2 linked regions of the Homo sapiens genome follow. The protein of the gene in region 2 purifies or fractionates together with the protein of the main gene of each other region. This does not show direct contact. Each region holds a gene or a part of one and is shown on either strand. Other genes may lie near its edges. The genes, in order: PAIP1 and CSDE1.

Region 1 (10,609 bases), on a different chromosome or scaffold from region 2:
ACCAGTGGGGCTTCTTGGGGCAGGAAAGCACAGACTTTTTAGTGTTTGGCAGTCCAGGACAAGATTCCCTGGCATTTTGCTTCATGACTTTGGACATCAGTAAACCTCCCTGAGCTTCAGTTAGACTTTAAAGAGGTGATTAATGGTAACTGGCACAAGCAACTAACACTTAAACACTCCAAGAATGATTGGGTAAAGGGGAAATGAAAACAGCTAAGCTACTTAAAAACAGAAAAAAAAAAAAGTAAGAAAACACTACACATCAAAGATTGTTGATATAACTGAAGCAGTGTTCAGCAAGTTTAACTTTAATTGCAATTTCTAAAGAATAGTAGAGAACATAGTTTACCATCTAATATTAGGTAAGAAAACACACATTAAAAGGTTAAGAAGTCGGGCACAGTGGCTCATGCCTGTATTCCTAGTACTCTGGAAGGCCAAGGCCAGAGGATCGCTTGAGGCCATGAGTTCAAGACCAGCCTAGTCAACACAGTGTGACCACCATCTCTATAAAAAAATTTTAAAATTAGCTGGGCACGGTAGCATGCACCGTAGTCCCAGCTACTCTGGAGGCTGAGGTGGAAGGATCACTTGAGTGTAGGAGTTCAAGGCTGCAGTGAGCTGTGGTCACGCCACTGCACTCTAGTCTGGGTGACAAAACAAAGCCCCCATCTTTTTAAAAAAAAAAAAAAAAAAAAAAAAAAAGCTAAGGGACTTGGCCACAAATGTAATTGAACATAGAATCTAGATCTAACAAATGTCCTGCTACCCCTCTGACTCTATATGTTGGGTCTACTTACTAACTTTTATTTCTAATTATTTCCTTGCTCACATGGGGCCAGTATATGTCACATTAAGGGAGAAAGAGTGATTTCTCCTGACATCATGTATGTTTAGCTGGTACCCAAGACTTGGTTCACCCTTACATTTTTCCCATTATTGGCACTGCATGTTTTCCTTTAGCTTCTTTTTAGTGTTATAACACGATTTAAAGACAAGTTCTATAAGGCTTGTCATTCAACAGTTTCCTACTTACATCCCGGTTTTACTCCCAAAGACAACCACTTTTGACTTCTTCAGCCAAAAATGTTTTAATCCCCATATCTCCGCACTACGTAATTTTTCAGTTTAGATGTTATTTCTTACTGCAACTTGAGCATCCCTGTCCAAAAATCTAAAATCCTCCAAAAACAGAAAATATGAGTGTCCACATAATGCCAAAAGTGGAAAATTCCACACCTGACCTCATGTGACAGGTCAGTCAAAACACAGGTGTACAACACATAATTTATTCAGCATCCCCAAAGGAAAAAAGACCCTGTCAACCCCCTTCAGCTGTAATATACTTAGGTACCCTCCCTGAGGTGTCTCATTATATACTGGATATGCTAAATCTGAAAAAATCCATCTGAAATGCTTGAAATCTCAAGCATTTCAGATACGGGATACTCAACTTACAGTTTCCCATCATGGAAGATGAGCTTTTAGCTTTCACCCTGCTTAATTTCACCCCACTCTACTATTTCCTCCTATCACAGTATGGTTATGATTTTATTCATTTGCTGTGTTTTCATTTATAGCTGAACCATGTATTACACTGCTTTTACTTTTGCACAACTTTGTCTTCCCTAGATTCAGTTTTTACTACACTTTTATATTCTTCTCATTGATTTATCCCTAAACTCACTACTCTGTAAATTTCTTCTTATGTCTTACAGCATGTGTGCTCATCTTATTACGGAAGTCTTTCCTGGAGCCTTCTGACCTAGTCCAGTGAAGCCTGGCTGCTTCAGACCTACTATGCATGCTGCTATTGTTTTGAGATCTCCTTTGAACCATCATCTGGACAGTTCACTTAGTCTCTCCTGTAGAGTTCCTTTTCCTGGTTCCCATGTCTTCATCCGTGGCATAACTCCTCTTTTTGACAGAGTACGTCCTTTGTTAATTTCATAAGAAGGGTTACAACAAAATTTCAAACCGGCTGTTCAGTGTAAAAAGATCTGGATGGTCTAACTTTTTAGATTCTCAAGCAATCCTTTTAGCCTCATTCCATCCTTATTTTAGAACCTTTTAGGTTTTGCACTGTAAGTCATGGTGATTCTCAGCTTTACCACCACTGGCTTGGAATTCAACGTTAGATCTGCCAAATCAGGTACCACTCACCCACCTGCTTTCTAGTCTTCAAAACTAGTGCTTTTCTTTTCCTCTTCTCTGTCCCTATGAGCTTCCGCCTTTTAAAAATCCCCATAGCATCATTTTAGTGGTGTTTGGGAGATATCAGAGTTGAATGTGTATTTAATCTGTCATTTTTTTTTTTTTTGATTCAGAGTTTCGCTCGTTGCCCAAGCTGGAGTGCAGTGGCGCAATCTCGGCTCACTGCAACCTCCGCCTCCCGGGTTCAAGCGATTCTCCTGCCTCAGCCTCCCGAGTAGCTGGGATCACAGGCATGCACCACCAAGCCCAGCTAATTTTGTATTTTTTTTTAGTAGAGACAGGGTTTCTCCATGTTGGTCAGGCTGGTCTTGAACTCCTGACCTCAGGTGATCCACCCGCCTCGGCCTCCCAAAGTGCTGGGATTACAGACATGAGCCACTGCGCCTGGCCTAATCTGTCATCTTTTGTAATACTTCCTCGTTTGTTAGTTGCTATGAGTAAATTTCCATAAATTACCTCAATGAAACTTAGCAGCTATTGATAAACCTATGCATCATTGATCATAGAATATTAAAACATTAAACATACTGACTACATATTTGACAATCAGAGAAATAGTTGACGCTTATCAGGTTACTGACCCTTTGTCCAGCCCTGAATAAGTATAATTACGCAGCCTACTGAATAACTGAAACTAAATAGTGGAGGAAGCCAGAAAGGCAACAAGAAATAAATACATTTGTTTCATTTTCTTATCTCATATTCCTTTTCAATCCATTTATCAGCAGAAAGCAGAAATGAGGACAAACAGTGCAGTTCTGTCTTCCTAACATCTCAGGTACTTCCTCAAAACTGACAGTTGGCTAGGTAATCTTGGGGTCCAGTAACCATCCAGAATAACTTGGAAAAGCAGCCAAATGAAACATTAGGATAGAAAATAATCATTAATTTGCATTATAATCTCCCTTCCATATATTCCAAATTTGAGTTGCTCTTGTAACAGTGACTTAAAGAACCTAAAGTTTACATTTCTGATCATGGCCCATTTTTTTTGACCAGTCTCACACTGACTAAGAAATTTTGTGTTAAGCCAGTGTTGTCTACTGTATTTTTCACTTTTAAAATAGCATTAATGAGGCCAGGTGCAGCGGCTCATGTCTGTAAAATCCCAGCATTTTGGGAGACCAAGGCAAGCAGATCACTTGCGGTCAGGAGTTCGAGACCAGCCCGGTCAACACGGTGGAACCCTGTCTCTATCAAAAATACAAAAATTAGCTGGGCATGGTGGTGCACACCTGTAATCTCAGCTACCTGGGAGACTGACGCAGGAGAATCGCTTGAACCCGGGAGACGGAGGTCGCAGGGAGCTGAGACTGCGCCACTGCACTCCAGCCTGGGAGACAGGGCAAGACTCCATATCAAAAAAAAAAAAAAAAAAAAAAAAAAAGCGTTAATATGTTAATGACCAATATGCTGGGATAAAAACTAAATGTTGTATAATGAAACAATTTCAACTGACTAAATTAGACTTTCAAGGAATTAAGATGAAATCCTTAAATTTTAAAAGAAAGCAAAGGCAAGTAGAAATGCTAAGACAAGACATTTTATGGTTTGGCTTTCTTTTTTTTAAAGACCTACTTATGAGGCAAGCAAATTCTCTCAATTTTTTTCCTCCCCTACTCTAATACTACTATTCAATTCAACACATAGGGGAAAAGAATTGCAGTCTTTTCTGGTACTGCTAATTTCAGAGCCTGCAAAACAAGGGGCAGGGTTTTGGTGGGGGTGACACTTATGTAGCCTTCGTTTTCAGTGCCCATATCACCTTCTATACTATACTGCTTGTATAGAGCTTTGGCTAAACAGGTGAATATTACCTATATTGAATCTTGACTACACATGTGAACTTGCAATCCTGTCTGGCTCTACCCTTGGATCCCTAACTATAGGAGTTTTATACAAGACAGACTTAGAACTCCCGGAAACTATAAAGAGTAAGTGTGGAGGCAGGTGATCATGAATCTGGTCTCCCTCAAGGAGTAGCCACTATCCTTGGGCTTCAAGGAAGCTATCTGAAGGTCACTGCATGCTATAAGCCAACATACCTGTTGATAGATGAGTTCCACAAGTTCTTGCAAAGCATCATCTGTTGTAACACAACCATTCAGGGTCTCTGCAAACTGTTCAATTTCAGTTTCAAAACTGCCAGGCTGCTCTGTAAGATGATTCAAAAAATCCTGAACATATTCTGATAGAGTAGGATAATCCTCACAACCATCCTCATAGGATTCCTACGGATCAAAAATGAAAAAACAATTTTAATCTATGCAACTGGCTAAAACACACAAGGTGGTATGTCTCTAGCACAAATGCTTTTTTAAAGATCCCTCACATGATAAAAATTTATGTTCATCAATAAAATTGTCAATTGAGCTATTTTTCTTCCTTGCCTAAAAGCTGAAGTGTTATAATTAACAGCAGAAAGGTTCTGTTCAGCTAAACAGGGAATTGTCTTCTCATTCTGGGTCAACTTCTAAGATGGCTGAGGAATAAAGTTTAAACCAATATTTCACTACAATGCCAATATAAAAATTAAGAATCTGATCCACTTACGAATGAAATAAGATCTAGGATTTGCTTCAAAGTGGGAGGGGAAGTATGGACTAGGGATATAAAAACAAGAACGGCCACATGTAGCTTACTGTTGAGGCCATGAGGATTCATTATACCATTCTCTGTATTTCTGCAAATGTTGACAACTTTTTTATTGGGGAAAAAAAAAACAAAAACAAAAACCTAATAAGGTTTATCATCTGTTAATCCCCAAGGGCAAAGAAATGCATAAAGCTGCTCGAGTAACTAAAATTTCATCACGGTATAAATGGAAGGAGACCTTTTGGCTGCTACATCCAGGTTGCTAACACAACCTTGATAGCAGCAGTAGTTTCCAGCTAATGTTGTTTCCACCACTGTCACCTTTGGCAGTTTCCAACCTTTTCATTAATGGCAGAAGGCTGAGTGGGCGAGTTTTACAAAAGATAATAGACTTGAGCAACAACTTTCACATCTCAATGCCTGGAATACCACCCGAAGCGCTTTAAAGTTTACCAAACAGTTAAAATCTAATAATAACTACACTGCTTGTATGAAATTTAACCTTCTCCAAACAGAGTAAATGAAAAGCCACATAAAAAAGTTATGACTACAAAACAGAAGCATTTTGTGAAGGGGTTAAGTTCTAAAGTCAGTGAGTGCATAGAAGAAAAAAAAAGTCATACATGGTCAAAACACCCTTAGAAATGCTCCATGTTGGAGAAAGACAGTCTTTTTTTTTCTTTGAGACAGTCTTGTTCTGTCGCCCAGGCTGGAGTGCAGTGGTGCAATCTTGGCTCACTGCAACCTCCGCCTCCCGGGTTCAAGCTATTCCTGTACCTCAGCCTCTCAAGTAGCTGGGATTACAGGCATGCACCACCATGCCTGGCTAATTTTTGTATTTTTAGTAGAGACAGGGTTTCACCATGTTGGCCAGGCTGGTCTCAAACTCTGACTTCAGGTGATTCCCCCACCTTGGCCTCCCAAAGTGCTGGGATTACAGGCCACTGCGCCTGGCCCAGGACACAGTCTTAGGAGAAAGACCAACATTGCCAATTGTCCACTTGTCCCTTTACTGTTGGTGCTTGATATGGTTTGGCTGTGTCCCCACCTAAATCTCAACTTGAATTGTATCTCCCAGAATTCCCATGTGTTGTGGGAGGGACCCAGGAGGGAGGTAACTGAATCAATGGGGCCAGTCTTTCCGGTGCTATTCTTGTCATAGTGAATACGTCTCACGAGATCTGATGGGTTTATCAGGGGTTTCCGCTTTTGCTTCTTCCTCATTTTTCTCTTGCTGCGGCCACGTAAGATGTGCCTTTCACCTCCCGCCATGATTCTGAGGCTTTCCCAGCCTTGTGGAACTGTAAGTCCAATTAAATCTCTTTTTCTTCCCAGTCTCGGGTATGTCTTTGTCAGCAGCATGAAAATGGACCACTATAGTGCTACCACTTCAAATAACCATCATTTGGAGGTCATGTTTTACACTTTTTATTTTATCTTTATTTTTTATTTTTATTTTTGAGATGGAGTCTCGCTCTGTCACCCAGGCTGGAGTACAGTGGCAAGATCTTGGCTCACTGCAACCTCTGCCTCCCAGGTTCAAGCAATTCTCCTGCCTCAGCCTCCCAGAGTAGCTGGGACTACAGGCATGTACCACCAGGCCCAGCTAATTTTTTTTGTATTTTTAGAGGAGATGGGGTTTCACCATGTTGATCAGGATGGTCTCAAACTCCTGACCTCAAATGATCCACCCAACTCGGCCTCCCAAAGCGCTGGGATTACAGGCGAGAGCCACCATGCCCGGCCTATGTATCTTCAGAGACTGAAGTGATACTTAGCAAAAGTTGCATGTACTATGAGAGGCAGTCAGGAAGTAAAACCAGCTGCAGAAATAGCAGATTCATGTGCCTTTTTCATTCACATATAGTGTTCATTGAATAGAAGGATAAACTCTAATACATTAGATTTTTGTCACGCATTTGAATTCAAGTTAAACATTCTACTATAATAGGAGGTATTAATGTTGATGCATTTATTTACTAATCATAAATATTATCACTGTGACTCTGAGGATTAAGTGAATTAATCAAATTCACCTAGATTGGTGAAGAGCACATAGTAAAGCACAGAATGTTCAACAAATGAATTACATTTTAAATTTCTAGGAGAATACTGAGTCATATTCCAAATGCAACAGCCATGTATTCATACATAAAGGGACTAAAGTATAAAAAGCATCCAAAATGAATGATAAAAAGCTGTATTTCTTGGCACCTAGGATGGTACTCCAGTTAATAAGCTAATAGCCACCAGCTGCATATATGATATGTGATAGACACCATAAGGGCTTTGCCTGCATCTTGTTTAACCTAGAACATTTTGAGGTAAGCATCACTATCCTCCCTGCATAGAAGAAACAGGCACAGAGTAGTTAAGTCACTTTGGTTATTCATTCAAAATGGTGTGGCTGCTGAGTACCTACTAAGTGCCAAAGACTGTCTTAGGGGATGGGATACTGCCATGACATGAATATCTGCCATGAATAAAGCAGACAAGGCTCTCCTCTCATGGAGCTCATACCCCATGATGGAAGACACATTCAGAAGTTGAAATATACTACAAAAAAAAAAAAAAAAAAAAAAGCAAAAAGCCAAGTAGAGATTCTTAGAGTTAATATATAAACTAAGAAAGAAAAAAAGATCCAGCCATACAAATATCTAAGGAAAGATATTCTCTTTCTATGGGCACAAGAAGCACACAGGCCCCAAGGAGGCCTAATAACTTTGAAAAAGACAATAACTAGAATACAGAAACTGAGGATGGGTGGTAACTAATGAGGTCAATGAGGCAGATAAGGAGATCTTAGAGGGCTTTGGGGGCCAAATTAAGGAAACTGGCTCTTAAGGAAGTAGGAAAAACAGGATGGGGGAAAGAGGGTTTGAACAAGGAAGGACCATGCACCAACTTAAGTGACTGTGCATGGTCACAAAACTGATTAGAAGAACTGAGCGCAGAACAAAGCCTATATTTTTAACCTCTCTGTGAAACTCAAAATAAAGGACAAAAGCTTAAAACCCAATTTTATGTACAAAGATGTTCATTGCCAAAAAATCCACGTAACAATCCATTAACAAGGAATTGGTTAAATACATTATCATATATCTGTATAATGGAATATTATAGCCATTTAAGAAAACAAGAGACAACAGTACTTACCTCTAGAGTGAGAAAATGTTCCCATTATAAATATTGACATTATAAAGTTGTGAAAGCAGTTAGGCATAATTGTACACATTCATATACTTAATGTTAACTACATACATGCGTGAATTTTATAACTAAAAACTAGTCTTAAGTTTTTGATATACAGTTACTAGTTTTACAGACTTGTAGTATCCTACCACTATTAATGACAAGGAACAGCAGAAAGGCAAAGGTACGGGTCCCAGCTGAAAGTACTAATTTCCTGTTTCCATCAAATGTCATTCTTCGTGGCAAAAATGCTGCTTAGAGCGCTGATTTGCAATCTTTTTTTTTTTTTTTTTAAAGTCAACAGAACTCTCTTTTAAGAAAATGTAAAATCTGATCAGTAAAAGAAGAAAGTAGAACTGCTCTGAATATAGCAGAACAGAGGATCCAGAGCCTGCCATTTTAAGCAAAAAAAGGAGGCATAGAGTATTTGGAACAGACAGGCACTCCAACGTGTTTGAATCAAAGCCTGCATTACTTCTCTAGCACCAGATTTTTTAAAGCCACAAATTTCTTCAGTCTTCAATGTGGAGTCAAATGGCTTCCAAACAGAGATATTTTCAAGTTTTATTTTTCTTAGAATTCTATGGGAGATTGGGAGAAATAGAAAATGTACTTTTTCATGGTAGGTACTCTATATACATTGTCAAGAGATGAGAACCTATTACAGAACCGTGGGAATAAAAGAAAACTGATCAGACACTACAGAGAGTGAATATAGTCACGACTACTTTAGCTAGCTGGATTGAATTAAGGCAAGGGTGTGCAGGAGAGGTGAGTCAATATGCCACCAAGTTCTTAGTGTAAGCAGCTAGTTAGAAGAGATTCGCATGAGATAAATAATTCTTACACTGTGTATAGATTTTATACTTGCATTTGAATGTGAGGTCCTCAAGAAGTGGTCAAATAAATGAAAATGTATGCCTAGAGTTCACTAGAGTTCAAAGGAATAATTAGATGTCAGGGTTATTAGCACATAAATAAGTGATAGATTCTATGGAATAGGCGGGATTAGCAAAGGAGGTAATAAAATGGAAGAAAGAACGTCACCAACTGTCATCTGAGGGGAAAAGGAATGATCTGCAAGTTGGGAGGATAAAGTACTGCCACAGAAGCCAAAGAGGTAGGGGAGAAGAGATGCTCATAACAACAAATGCTACAGAATAAATTCATAGGTTGAAATCTGGAAGAGAATTATCATTGCAGAGTCTCGGGAGTGAAGGAGATTATACTCAGAGAGAAAAAAGAACAAAACTAGTACCTCAAATACTTAGTTCTTAAAACAATGGGAGGGAGCTTCTGATAGACTAAAAAGGTACCTTTGCACCTAGCACAGGACCTGGCACATGGGGATTTATAAACTGAATAGATCCTACAGTGCTCAAAGTTTTAAAATGAGATTTAGGAAGATAAATTTAAAAATCGGAAGAACATCAGTCACAAAAATAGTATCAATACAATTAGGGAGATCAGACTGCAGAGGTCTGAACAGTGAGAGACAGTGAATAATTTTACCTATTGGAGAATGATACTACTGCAAGGCAGAACAAAAACTGGGAAGTAACTTGAAGAGGGATTCTCTTAGAAAAAAAGCTCGTTTTTTTGCAGGGGAGGAAGGGGACTTCTGTCTCTTCATCAATGCTTTATGAATTCCTATGTTAAATTTTTGGCTCTGGTAAGTGAACTGTGACAAATATTCAAGGCATAATGGTTTGTCTGAGAAGAAATAATGGCCAGGGATAAATGGATATAGCAACTCACTGGTAAGAAGACATGGAAAGTAGGAAATTCTAGCAGCAGGATTAGAGGAAGAACTGAAGATAAAAGGGCTTGGTGCCTTGAAAGAGTTAAGAAAGCACAGCAGAAGACTACCATAAAGGCTGTTAGAAAAAGGATACCAGGAAATAGATTTTCATGTGTAGAACAAAAGCAGATTCAATAAATGTCTGCAAACTGAGCCAGGAGACTACTAGAATAGAGACTCCATGAAGACAGGAATTTCTGTCCATTTTGTTTGTTGCTGTATCACCGGTGCTTGACTCATGATAAGTACTTGACTATTTGTTGAATGAGTGAATGTAGCTAACTTTGGATTATGGCTACTAAAAGGAAATGTTTCCTTTGCAACAAGAGCTTATCCTAAGAGTCGGGGGAAAAAAGGATCCTGCTGTTCTATGACTAATTGGATTGAGAAAAACTCTCTTAGCCTTAACTATGGGTAAAGATTAGGGTAAACCAGTAAGGCTAGAGAATATACCAGAACAGGGGTAGTAAGCCTGAATGCCTGTAGAATTCAGGTAGATTACAAATGAATGAAATAAGCCAGAAAGCAAATTAGAGCTCACAGACTCCATCTAAAGAGAATGCCTCTACTCAGCTCCAACCAATTTTTGCTGTATCAAAATGCCAGTCCACTAAGGCCAGATTTTATGACAAACCAGAACATTCAAGTTTCTAATATCTAATTTAGGTATTGGTTAATTAAATAAAACAACTTAAAGAAAAAACAAACCCATTCAGGGCTAGAGAAGACACCTGCAGGCCACACAGGTTTCCAGGTGCCAGGCTGCAATCTGTTTTGGTAAATTGAGCACAGGAGGTGCTGATCTAT
Region 2 (10,613 bases):
ATTAAAGCTCAAACGAACCCACCAACAGTCATGAATAATTTACTGGCCGAATTAACATCTTCACAGCTTCTATAGTTAACTAAATGTTTTTCAATTAAATTAACACTTACTGAAGAACTTAAAGGTATTGGTCAGGCAGTTTAATATAAATAGCTATCCACTCATGCCCGGATTAACATTAATTGGTGCTACTAACCACCTCTTTTGCCTTAACCCTAGGAACACAAGTGCATCTCCTCCATCCCCCTAAAAGCTTGAAACTTAAGTTGCATGAAACACTGGGTATTGGGCTGGGGTGGTGGCTCTCGCTTGTAATCCCCAGCACTGTGGCAGGCCAAGGTGGGAGGATTGTCTGAGACCAGCCTGGGCAACATGGTGAGATGCTGTCTCTACAAAAAATTTTAGAAATAAAAAATAAATTCACTGGGTGTGGTGGCATGCACCTGTAGTCCCAGCTACTCGGGAAGCTGAGGCAGGAGGATCACTTGAATCCAGGAGTTTGAGGCTGCAGTGAGCTATGACTGTGCCACTGCACTCTTGCCTGGGCGACAGAGTAAGACGCTGACTCAAAACAATCGCCCCCACAAACCCACCATAGGGTACCAATAAAAACACTAGGGAACAATTTAAATGTGTATCTGAGAATCATACTGTGTGCTAAGTAATCAACTCCTTTTCCCTTTGCTCAGCATGGAAATAGTATTATTACTTAATCACTGCAATCTCCACCTCCCGGGTTCAAGCGATTCTCCTGCCTCAGCCTCCCCAGTAGCTGGGACTACAGGCGTGTACCACCAGGCCTGGCTGGCTAATTTTTGTATTTTTAGCACAGATGGGGTTTCACCATGTTGGTCAGGCTGGTCTCGAACTCCTGACCTCAAGTGACCCACCTGCCTCAGCCCCCCAAAGTGCTGGGATTACAGGCGTGAGCCACTGCACCTGGCCACCACCTGTTTTATTTCATGTCTTCCTCGGCTGTTTTACCTCAAAGGCCTAGCATAAGCCATGACATAGTCGGCACTAAATGAAGAGGTTAAACTAACACATTTATGTGGTAAGTAATCCATCTAAAATGTATCACACTACCTAGTTTATTATTTTGAAAGTATGTGCAGCACTCACTTCGGGAAAAGTTAATGAAAGGCTAAGCCAGTCTACAAAAGTCTGCTCACCTAACCCACTTCCTTTAGGCAGTATCTTCTTTTAGGCAGGAAAAAACAAAGACCCAAATAGGTAGCATAGGACTGAAAAGTTTCTCTATTGCCTGACATTTCATTGAGCACCACATTTTATAACTGAAGTGCTTAATAGGTCTTAATTCATTTTTACTTTAGGATCTAAGGTAAACGATAAACTCTAGATAATTAACCAACCTAAGTCATCTGTTGAGTAAAAATAAAAAATCAAACTGACACAACTATCTTTTTGTATCTGTGTAGTAACAACTGTGCTGGATTAATTATCTAAACAGCTACTGAGATATTTAAAATTATCTATCACTTAACTGCTTATATATACACCCAGAAACCTAATAGTTTTAAGCAGGACAAATGGCAGTGTGGGAAGATGCTGAAGAAACATTCTAGACACATCAGAAAACACCACAGACCAGCAGTTTCCAACAGAAATACAGTGTAATTATAATTCTAGTAACCATATTACAGTCAAAAGAAACAGAAGGAATTTTAATTAAACGTCTTATTTAACCAATTATATCCAAAATGTTATTCTCTACAGGCAATCAATGTAAAAAAATTGACACTGTTACATTCCTTGAAATCCAATGTTATTATACAATCACAGCACATTTCAATTCAAACTAGTCACACTTCAAGTGCACAACAGCCACACGTGGCTGGCGGCTACCATGTTCCACAGAGTAGGTATAAACTGAGCAGGGGTCTAAAAAAGCACTATTGTGCCAATTAGCAACAGGAAGTAAATGTAAGGGTCTTGAGCAAAGATTTTCACTAATAAAAGTAGGCAGTATCTAGCATAGAAGCTTGTTGTTAATAAATTGGAGAAAAAGAAGTGCAAATAACTGGTTATGTACCGGCTGTAGCTGCAAATCAACGGATAGCTTACATGTGCAACATAGGGGAAACTGATAATTTTCAGCCACACACTGTTTTACCTCAGCATAAAAGGACATTAAAATATTAAAAAGTTTTGTGTTGTTTTTAACTAGGTACCCACACATGCAAGTGGAAAACATTCTAATATCAAAACAAAGGACTTTTTAAAATCCTGACTGGGCAGAAGGGATTTAACAGCAAGTCACTCTCACCATAGTAGTTTCACCACTTACAACAGTCTAGCTATTAAAGCTTACAAAATAGATCTCAAAGTGCTTCCTCTTCTGTTTTCTGCAAGGACAAAGCTAAGAAGAAGGCACATCAATTCTTTGTGTTTACTTAACAAGATCAAGATTTTTATCTCATTTTGCAATACAGTCCTGAAATTCAACTCCTCAAAAATCTGTCCAAAAGAACATCGTTCCAAAATTTCCATGTTTTAACTACCTTGTCGAAAGTATGGCTCTCACAACAGTTTCAATAGACTTAGTGCCACTGAACTGTACAATGAAAAACACTGGAACACTAAATTTCATGTTATGAATGCTCCAGCATAATTTGATATTTTAGCATTTTGTTTGTTTAAAACAAAAATCGATGGCCCTACACGATGTGTCTTCAGGTGGGGAGAAGGGAAAATAAGGGTAGAGGGTAAAGCCAGACTGCACGTCAGCTTTCACGCTTTCAATTTTGATTTGCTAGGACTTTACCAGATTTTCACCCACACTCGCTAAAGGTCACACTTAAGTCAGTACTTACAAAAAAAGAAAACCTATCTTCTGTGCCTCAAATACTTTAGTTTTCAACTCAGCTGCTATAAATAATCATCTCGATGGTAAACATCCAGAACAGCTGCAAAACCAAACTATTACCTTCTCTTTTATTTTAGTCCCAGGGCTAAAACGAAACAAAAAGAAGGCCAAATATTTATCTAAGTTTTATGACTCAGGTATATCCCTACTGAAGTATATAAAGCCCCTCCTTACCCACACCAAGGATATCCATTATTGGTTAGTACCAAAAGAAAACCAAGGTATGTATTATAGTGCTCCTCAATGCAATATCAAGAATGTTTGCCTTTAGTTACTCAAAATGAAAATTACTCAGCATTTTAGTATAGAGTAGCTTATATCTGTGGGCTATAATTTGAAACCTACATTCTAAAAAAGTAGGTTAGTAGCAGTGGCTGAGAACTGCCAGTTCATACCAGCCTGATGAAAATTTAAGCCTCTCAAAAAGATTTAACTACCACAGTGCCTTTGAGCATTCTCCCTCTCCGCCCTGTCTCCCAACTGTTTAAAGAGCGCCATATTCTTTTACTCATTTAAGGTGCAAAACACGAAAATTAACTTGCCCAACAACGTTCAGATATTCTTTGCAGATTCAAGCCTGTTTCAGGGAGCGTTCTCTGCTTCACCTGTGAGTTAAGCAAGACGGCCGCCATCTGGGTGTTTCTAAGGGAAAACCTTAAAGCAAAAGAACCTTGGCACTAAGATTTCGTATTGATAAAATAGCATGGCAAAAATTTGAAGCTGTCTCCGACGGGGGAACTCTAAAACATTCTACATAGAATGACGAAGCCAGGCCGTTCATTGCACAATGTGGGTGGGCCAGGCGCTGGCACCATGAGAACTACAGGAGGTGGAAGGGAGGACACTACTGAGCTTTCAGGGCGCACGCCCATTCCCCAAGATAGAGGGGTGGGAGCCACGTGCCTAAAAGATTAGGGACTGGTTCCCTTTCTCAAGACGCCGAAGGGGAGACAATGAGGGGAAGGTTGGGTGCTGAGACCCTGCTCTAGGTGACTGGAGTAACGATGTCAATTCCGCCACACTACTGTGCCAGATGTGGCTGGGGAAAGGTGTCTTTAAACACTTCCCCTAAGATATCTAGATGGAGCAGGGTCTCAGTCTATACACAAAGAAGGCGCCACTGCCGCACTGCGCTCTGGTACTGGTAGTCAGATTCCCAAGCAGGTAACGGCCAGGAAACTACAGGGTCCAGAGTCAAAGTAGGCCCCTCTTCTCGGTCTCAGGCTCTTCCAACCTCACACAAAGGACCGCGCCACCACCCCCTCGCCCCGCCCGCCGGGACATGTAGTTCCCGTTTCCCCAGACAAGCCGCAGATGGGGAAGCAGCCAGACTACAGATCCCAGCAGCCTCCGCGCCCGAGCCCCGCACCCTCTGCCTCCATCTTGGCTGCTGTCGGAGCCTCCATTTTCGCTCCCTCCCCCCACTTTAGTCACCACCACCACTACCACCACGCGCAGCCGGCTGGCCTCAACTCCTCGTTTCAGCTCTGCGACCTGACATGAGGCCCAGGCAGTTGAACGGGAGACGTATGAAAAAGCCCAGGGCAGGGAATCGGGGTGCATTCTTCCCCACCTAGAGCTCTACGAGTGCCCACCTTGACTCAGAAGGCTTCTCGTTAGCCTTGGTCTTATTCTCAGCCCTTCCCCTGGGTTTCTGCTACCCCCAGTTGGACCCTGAGGTCGTACTCACCCCAACAGCTCAGCGCCCCCTCTCCAGCGCCGCCATAAGCAGCACGGCCCGGTACGTAGGAATAAATCTCGCTTCTCTCGCGAGAGTTGCGGGCTCCGGGCGCGTGCACGAGAAGGGGCGGAGTGAAGCGTACTCTCAACACGCTTGCGCAGCAGGGCTAAGTGACGCCAAGCAGTTTGCTGCACTTAACCACAACCAACATGGTGGCTGCATTACATTACATTCCTTCTTGGGTGTGCTGCGGGAAGCAATCTCGGTGTTTACTGACTCCTCCTGGACACTAGGGGTGGCGGGTGGCTTTAGGCGTCTCTAGTCTTCGAGCGTTTGAATACGTTTTAGCCCACAATAATGGGGTAAACCTTGAAGGCCAACAATTCTGATGGCATATTCAGGAGTCATAAAAAATGATTTATCTTTTCCCAGCAAAAATCCGGAAGGACCTCACACTCGTTTCTTCTTATAGTGCAAGCATTCTTTCTTACGTCTACTGTTTTAGAGGAATTTCATTAGTATAGAGTCAGCTTTGTAGCAAGGTAATTTAGAAATCTAAATGAGACCTTTGTTTTCCACGAAAAACATTGCAACAGATGCACAAGAGTGAGCAAGGCTGCATAATCACTAAACAAAATGAAACAAATTCAGTCAACTGACCTTTCAAGTTACGAAAGATATTCCTGTTGTGTCAGGTAATCAAAGAGGGTGGATCAGTAATTAAAAGGTTGAAATAAGAGCAAAGAGATGATTCATCCAATGGGGGAAGAAGGAAGGAGAAAAATGGGTAATTATGACCACAGGAAGTTCAATGGATTATCCCCTGCCAGACAGTAGAGCATGCTCCTCTGGTGAGAGGAATGCTTTTCCCAGATTCAATGCTTCTGTTTTCACAGATTCACTGGCTCTCTCACTTGACAGTATTGGATAAATAATGAGCAGCCAGTCTTCTGAGAACTCTCCTACCCACTTTTTGCTTACAACACATTTATTTGACATGTTGTATGTGTAACCACTGGGAAGTATACAGTTGTAAAGAAAATCGGATATAGACTTGTCCTCAAGGAACTTTTAGTCTAGCATCATTGATGATCACAAAAACAAATCTAAACATACACATTGGAATAAGTGCAATGAAGGAAAGACAACCTTCAATTCAACCTCTTGAATTCTAAGAGGAGGCCGTGTCCCATTTCTGTTCAAAAATTTCCTCACCACCTTTGTTGCTGGTGTCCAGTCCCATGTATAACACCTCAAAACTGCCTTTTTGCTCTCTTTGATGCCTTCCCACGCTTTCCTAAGCACAAATATTTGCTTCATTTTCAATGCTTTCATAGCTCACTCTATTGTAATTATTAGTTTTTACTAGGTAGTAATACTCTAGCACAGAGCTTATGAAATTCATCTTTGCATCCCTGGTTGTTGACAGTGCCCGCTCTCAACAACTCTCAAAAGCTTGTTGAATAAATAGCACTGGACAACAGTATGATAAGTTGTTAGAAATTGGAATATATTTCTGGGAAACTACAGAATGTAAATTTTTTTTTTTTTCAGATGGAGTTCACTCGTGTTGCCTAGGCTGGAGTGCAATGGCATGATCTCAGCTCACTGCAACCTCCGCCTCCCGGGTTCAAGCAATTCTCCTGCCTCAGCCTCCTGAGTAGGTGGGATTACAGGCGTGCACCACCACACCCGGCTAATTTTTGTATTTTTGGTAGAGACAGGGTTTCACCATGTTGGCCAGGCTGGTCTCGAACTCCAGATGTCGTGATCCACCCGCCTCAGCCTCCCAAAGTGCTGGGATTACAGGCATGAGCCACCGCACCCGACCTAATTTTGTATTTTTAGTAGAGACAGAGTTTCTCCATGTTGGTCAGGCTGGTCTCCAACTCCTTACCTCAGGTGATCCGCCCACCTCGGCCTACCAAAGTGCTGGGATTGCAGGCATGAGCCACCACGCCTGGCCCAGAATGTAAATATTTCAAACCAGCTGTTTTGTTTAATTCACCCAGTTCTTAAATCGAGATCTCCCCTTCCTGCAATACAGCTGGTCTGTGTATTCTAATCTAATGTTATAGAGAAACTGTACCAGGCTCTTGCGCTAGATATGAGGTCATGTGAAACTAATTAGGTAATTAGGTAATTCTACTTTTAGTATACATTCTCAAATATCACAGCAATAGGAAATGTAAAAAAAAAAAAGTCTTACTAAATTATATCAATACAATTACTATTAATAAGGAAGGATAAAGCCTTGATTTCTACCATTACACATAGCTTCTGAAAACCTTCTTTAATTATATAATCATTTCATCATCATCATTCTGAATATATCCCAATTGTCTTTAAATTCCTTTAAATTCCTCCTTGTTCCAAAATTAATATCAATTTACATTTAACACAAAATGCAGTCTGTATAAACCGAGAAATATACATTTTAGCTTCTAATGCATTAAAGAAAGTAACAGGTGGAACAATTTGATATAAATCACAAGTTAAAATGATTTACTGTTTCTACAAGTAAAACCCACAAACAGAAGTAGGTTTCATTATTAGATCACTACATAATGATTTTTTTCAGATGAATTTTGAAGTCAAATCAAAAACTGAAAAAATGTGGTTATCTTTTTATGTTTTTTTTTAAATTAAATCAGAAACTTGTTAAATCACTTTGGAAAACCATCTCCTATGCAACAGGGTGACATGGATTTTGGGAAGATAGTCTGTTAAGGAACCATCAGAAAAAAATTTGAGAAATTATTTTTAGTTATTCATCATATTTAGTTTTCTACTCTGAAAAACTTAGACAATGAAATTGATAATGATTGTGTGCTTTTTTTCCCTCTACAATCATCAATAAGTACATTATCTCTGAAGTCTACTTTAGAATCAAAAGTAAGCATTTCTTACAGTTTGTAAGGTTTTCTTGAGCAGCGGTGGGTGAGATTTTTGTCATTTCTCTGTCGAATGAGAAAAATTAGGTCAATATAGAGCTTTTTTAAAAAAATTAAATAAGGCTAAATTTATTCCAGATTTTAAGAGTTGTTTTTATTCTGACATGTCCTCCCTGTTTAGGGAAACTAAAGAGGATCTTCTTTTATAAAATTATGATAGGCTGGGCACGGTGGCTCACAACTGTAATCCCAGACTTTAGAAGCCAAGGTGGGAGGATCGCTTGAGCTCAGGAGTTCCGGACCAGACTGGGCAATGTAGCGAAACCCCGTCTTTACAAAAAAATTGAAAATTAGCCAGGCATGGTGATGCATGTGTGGTCCCAGCTACTCAGCAGGCTGAGATGGGAAGACTGCTTAAGCCTGGGAGGTCATGGCTGCAGTGAGCCATAATCGTGCTATTGCACTTCAGCCTGGGCAACAGAATGAGACAAGGTCTTAAAAAATATTTCATTAAATAAGATAAAATTATGATAATAGTGCATGGTAAAGAGGTCCACATCCAAGGTTTCAGAACAGAAATAATACTTCTAGAGCAAAAACATTCATAAAGAAGAATTATTTCCATAAGAATTAATGTAAATAATTAAGATTTGGTCCTATAGGCCTACAACCCAAAACTTTTTATTCTTTAACCAGCCTCTAAACAGTTAAAGGGCATTATATAAATAAGAATAACATAATACCACTAATGTAATAAAATATTAGAATTTAAATAAGAATGCAAAAGCTTTATATAATGCTTCCCTTTAAAATGTTAAAATTGCACTTAATAGGATAATTATGTGGACATGCTAAAATGCTGCACCAAAAGTAACCATCTAACATTGTAGCTCTGGGAGTCAGTTAATAGAGGGAAGGGTAGAGCAACAGAATATTTATAATTTAACTTAAACTGAATCCTGATGAAATCCAATTGTATTTAACATAAATCCAAACTCTTTTACTGTGCTCTTCAAGGCCCTGAATGATATAGTCCCCACCAAATTCTCTAACCCCTGGTTAACTGGTTCTTCCTATATTGTAAGTTTGTTCCTACTTCAAGGCCCATGAATTTACTGTTGTCTCTGCCTGGAATGTTCTAGCCCAAATCTTTGGGCACTTTCTCATCATTCAGATTTCAGGTCAAATGTTAACCACTTTACAAAGGCCTTTTCTAAAGTAAAAGTACCCACTAAACTATCAGTTTCCATTTGTTTATTGCTCATCCCTCTGAACTACAGCATAAGCTTCAATTCTCTAGTTCATCATTGTATCCCCAAAACCTGGCACAGTGACTTACGTATACAGTAAATACTTAAACAATATTCATTGAATGAGTAAATTTCACTTATTTTATTGAATCCAAGGCAGTAGTGATTGTATGGTAGGTCATCATTTATGGATTACTAATAAGAAAATATGTAGCCATTGCTATAAAGACACATGCACACATATGTTTATTGCAGCACTATTCACAATAGCAAAGACTTGGAACCAGTCCAGATGTCCATCAATGATAGACTGGATTAAGAAAATGTGGCACATATACACCATGGAATACTATGCAGCCATAAAAAAAGATGAGTTAATGTCCTTTGTAGGGACATGGATGAAGCTGGAAACCATCATTCTCAGCAAACTATCGCAAGGACAAAAAACCAAACACCGCATGTTCTCACTCATAGGTGGGAATTGAACAATGAGAACAGTTGGACACAGAAAGGGGAACATGACACACCAGGGCCTGTCGTGGGATGGGGGAGGGGGGGAAGGATAGCATTAGGAGATATACCTAGTGTAAATGACGAATTAATGGGTGCAGGACACCAACATGGGACATGTATACATATGTGACAAACCTGCGCGTTGTGCACATGTACCCTAGAACTTAAAGTATAATTTAAAAATAAATAAATAAATAAAATAACCCTAAAGCTCTAGAAGAAAATATGTAGCCATTTTCATTATTGATATGGTTTGGTTGTGTCCTCTCCTGAATCTCATCTTGAATTGTAGTTCGAATAATCCCCACATGTCATGGGAGGGATCCAATGGGAGGTAATTGAATCATGTGGGCAGTTACCCTCATGCTCCTTTTCTTGTGATAGTGAGTTCCCATAAGATCTGATGGTTTTATAAGGGGCTTTCCCCCCTTTGCTCAGCACTCATTCTCCTTCCTGCCACCAAGTGAAGAAGGATATGTTTGCTTCCCCTTCCACCATGATCATAAGTTCCCTGAGGCCTTCCCAGCCAAGCTGAACTGTGAGTCAGTTTAACTTCTTTCCTTTATAAATTACCCAGTCTTGGGTGTGTCCTTATAGCAGTATGAGAATGAATTAACACAACAAATTGGTACCAGGAGTTAGTGGGTCACTGCTATAAGGATACCCGAAAATGTGAAAGCGACTTTGGAACTGGTAACAGGTAGAGTCTGGAACAGTTTTGAGGGCTCAGAAGAAGAAAATGTGGGAAGGTTTGGAAATTCCTAGAGAATTGGGGACTCAGAAGACAGGAAGATGTGGGAAAGTTTGGAACTAAAATGCCGATAATAATATGGACAATGAAGTCCAGGCTGAAGTGGTCTCAGATGGAGATGAGGAACTTGTTGGGAACTGGAATAAAGGTGATTCTTGCTATGCTTTAGCAAAGAGATTGGCAGCATATTGCCCCTATCCTAGAGATCTGTGGAACTTTGAACTTAAGAGAGAGAATTTAGGGTATCTAATGGAAGAGGTTTCTAAGTGGCAAAGCATTGAAGAGGTGGCTTGGGTGCTCTTAAAAGCATTCAGTTTTATGCATTCACAAATATATGGTTTGGAATTGGAACTTGTATTTAAAAGGGAAGCAGAGCATAAAAGTTTAGAAAATTTGCAGCCTGATGATGCAGTAGAAAAGAAAAACCCATTTTCTGGGGAGAAATTCAAGCTGGCTGTAGAAACTTGCGTAAGTAATGAGGAGACAAATGCTAATCATCCAGACAATGGGGAAAATGTCTCCAGGGCATGTCAGAGACCTTCATGGCAGCCCCTTCCATCACAGGCCTGGAGGCCAAGGAAGGAAAAATAGTTTCCTGAGCCAGGCCCAAGACCCCCTGCTCTGTGCAGCCTTGGGA

The links.
Region 1: the proteins of CSDE1 (region 2) and PAIP1 purify together in Homo sapiens (affinity purification with western blotting; 2 studies listed by BioGRID and IntAct, with this or other methods). This does not show direct contact.

Annotation. Positions count from the first base shown.
Region 1 is NC_000005.10:43,543,469-43,554,077, forward strand, and holds part of PAIP1 (polyadenylate-binding protein-interacting protein 1), read right to left. Parts: intron 4,446-10,609; coding exon 4,260-4,445; intron 1-4,259. UniProt on the Homo sapiens protein: Acts as a coactivator in the regulation of translation initiation of poly(A)-containing mRNAs. Its stimulatory activity on translation is mediated via its action on PABPC1. Competes with PAIP2 for binding to PABPC1.
Region 2 is NC_000001.11:114,753,348-114,763,960, forward strand, and holds the start of CSDE1 (cold shock domain-containing protein E1), read right to left. Parts: upstream 4,638-10,613; 5' UTR 4,578-4,637; intron 1-4,577. UniProt on the Homo sapiens protein: RNA-binding protein involved in translationally coupled mRNA turnover.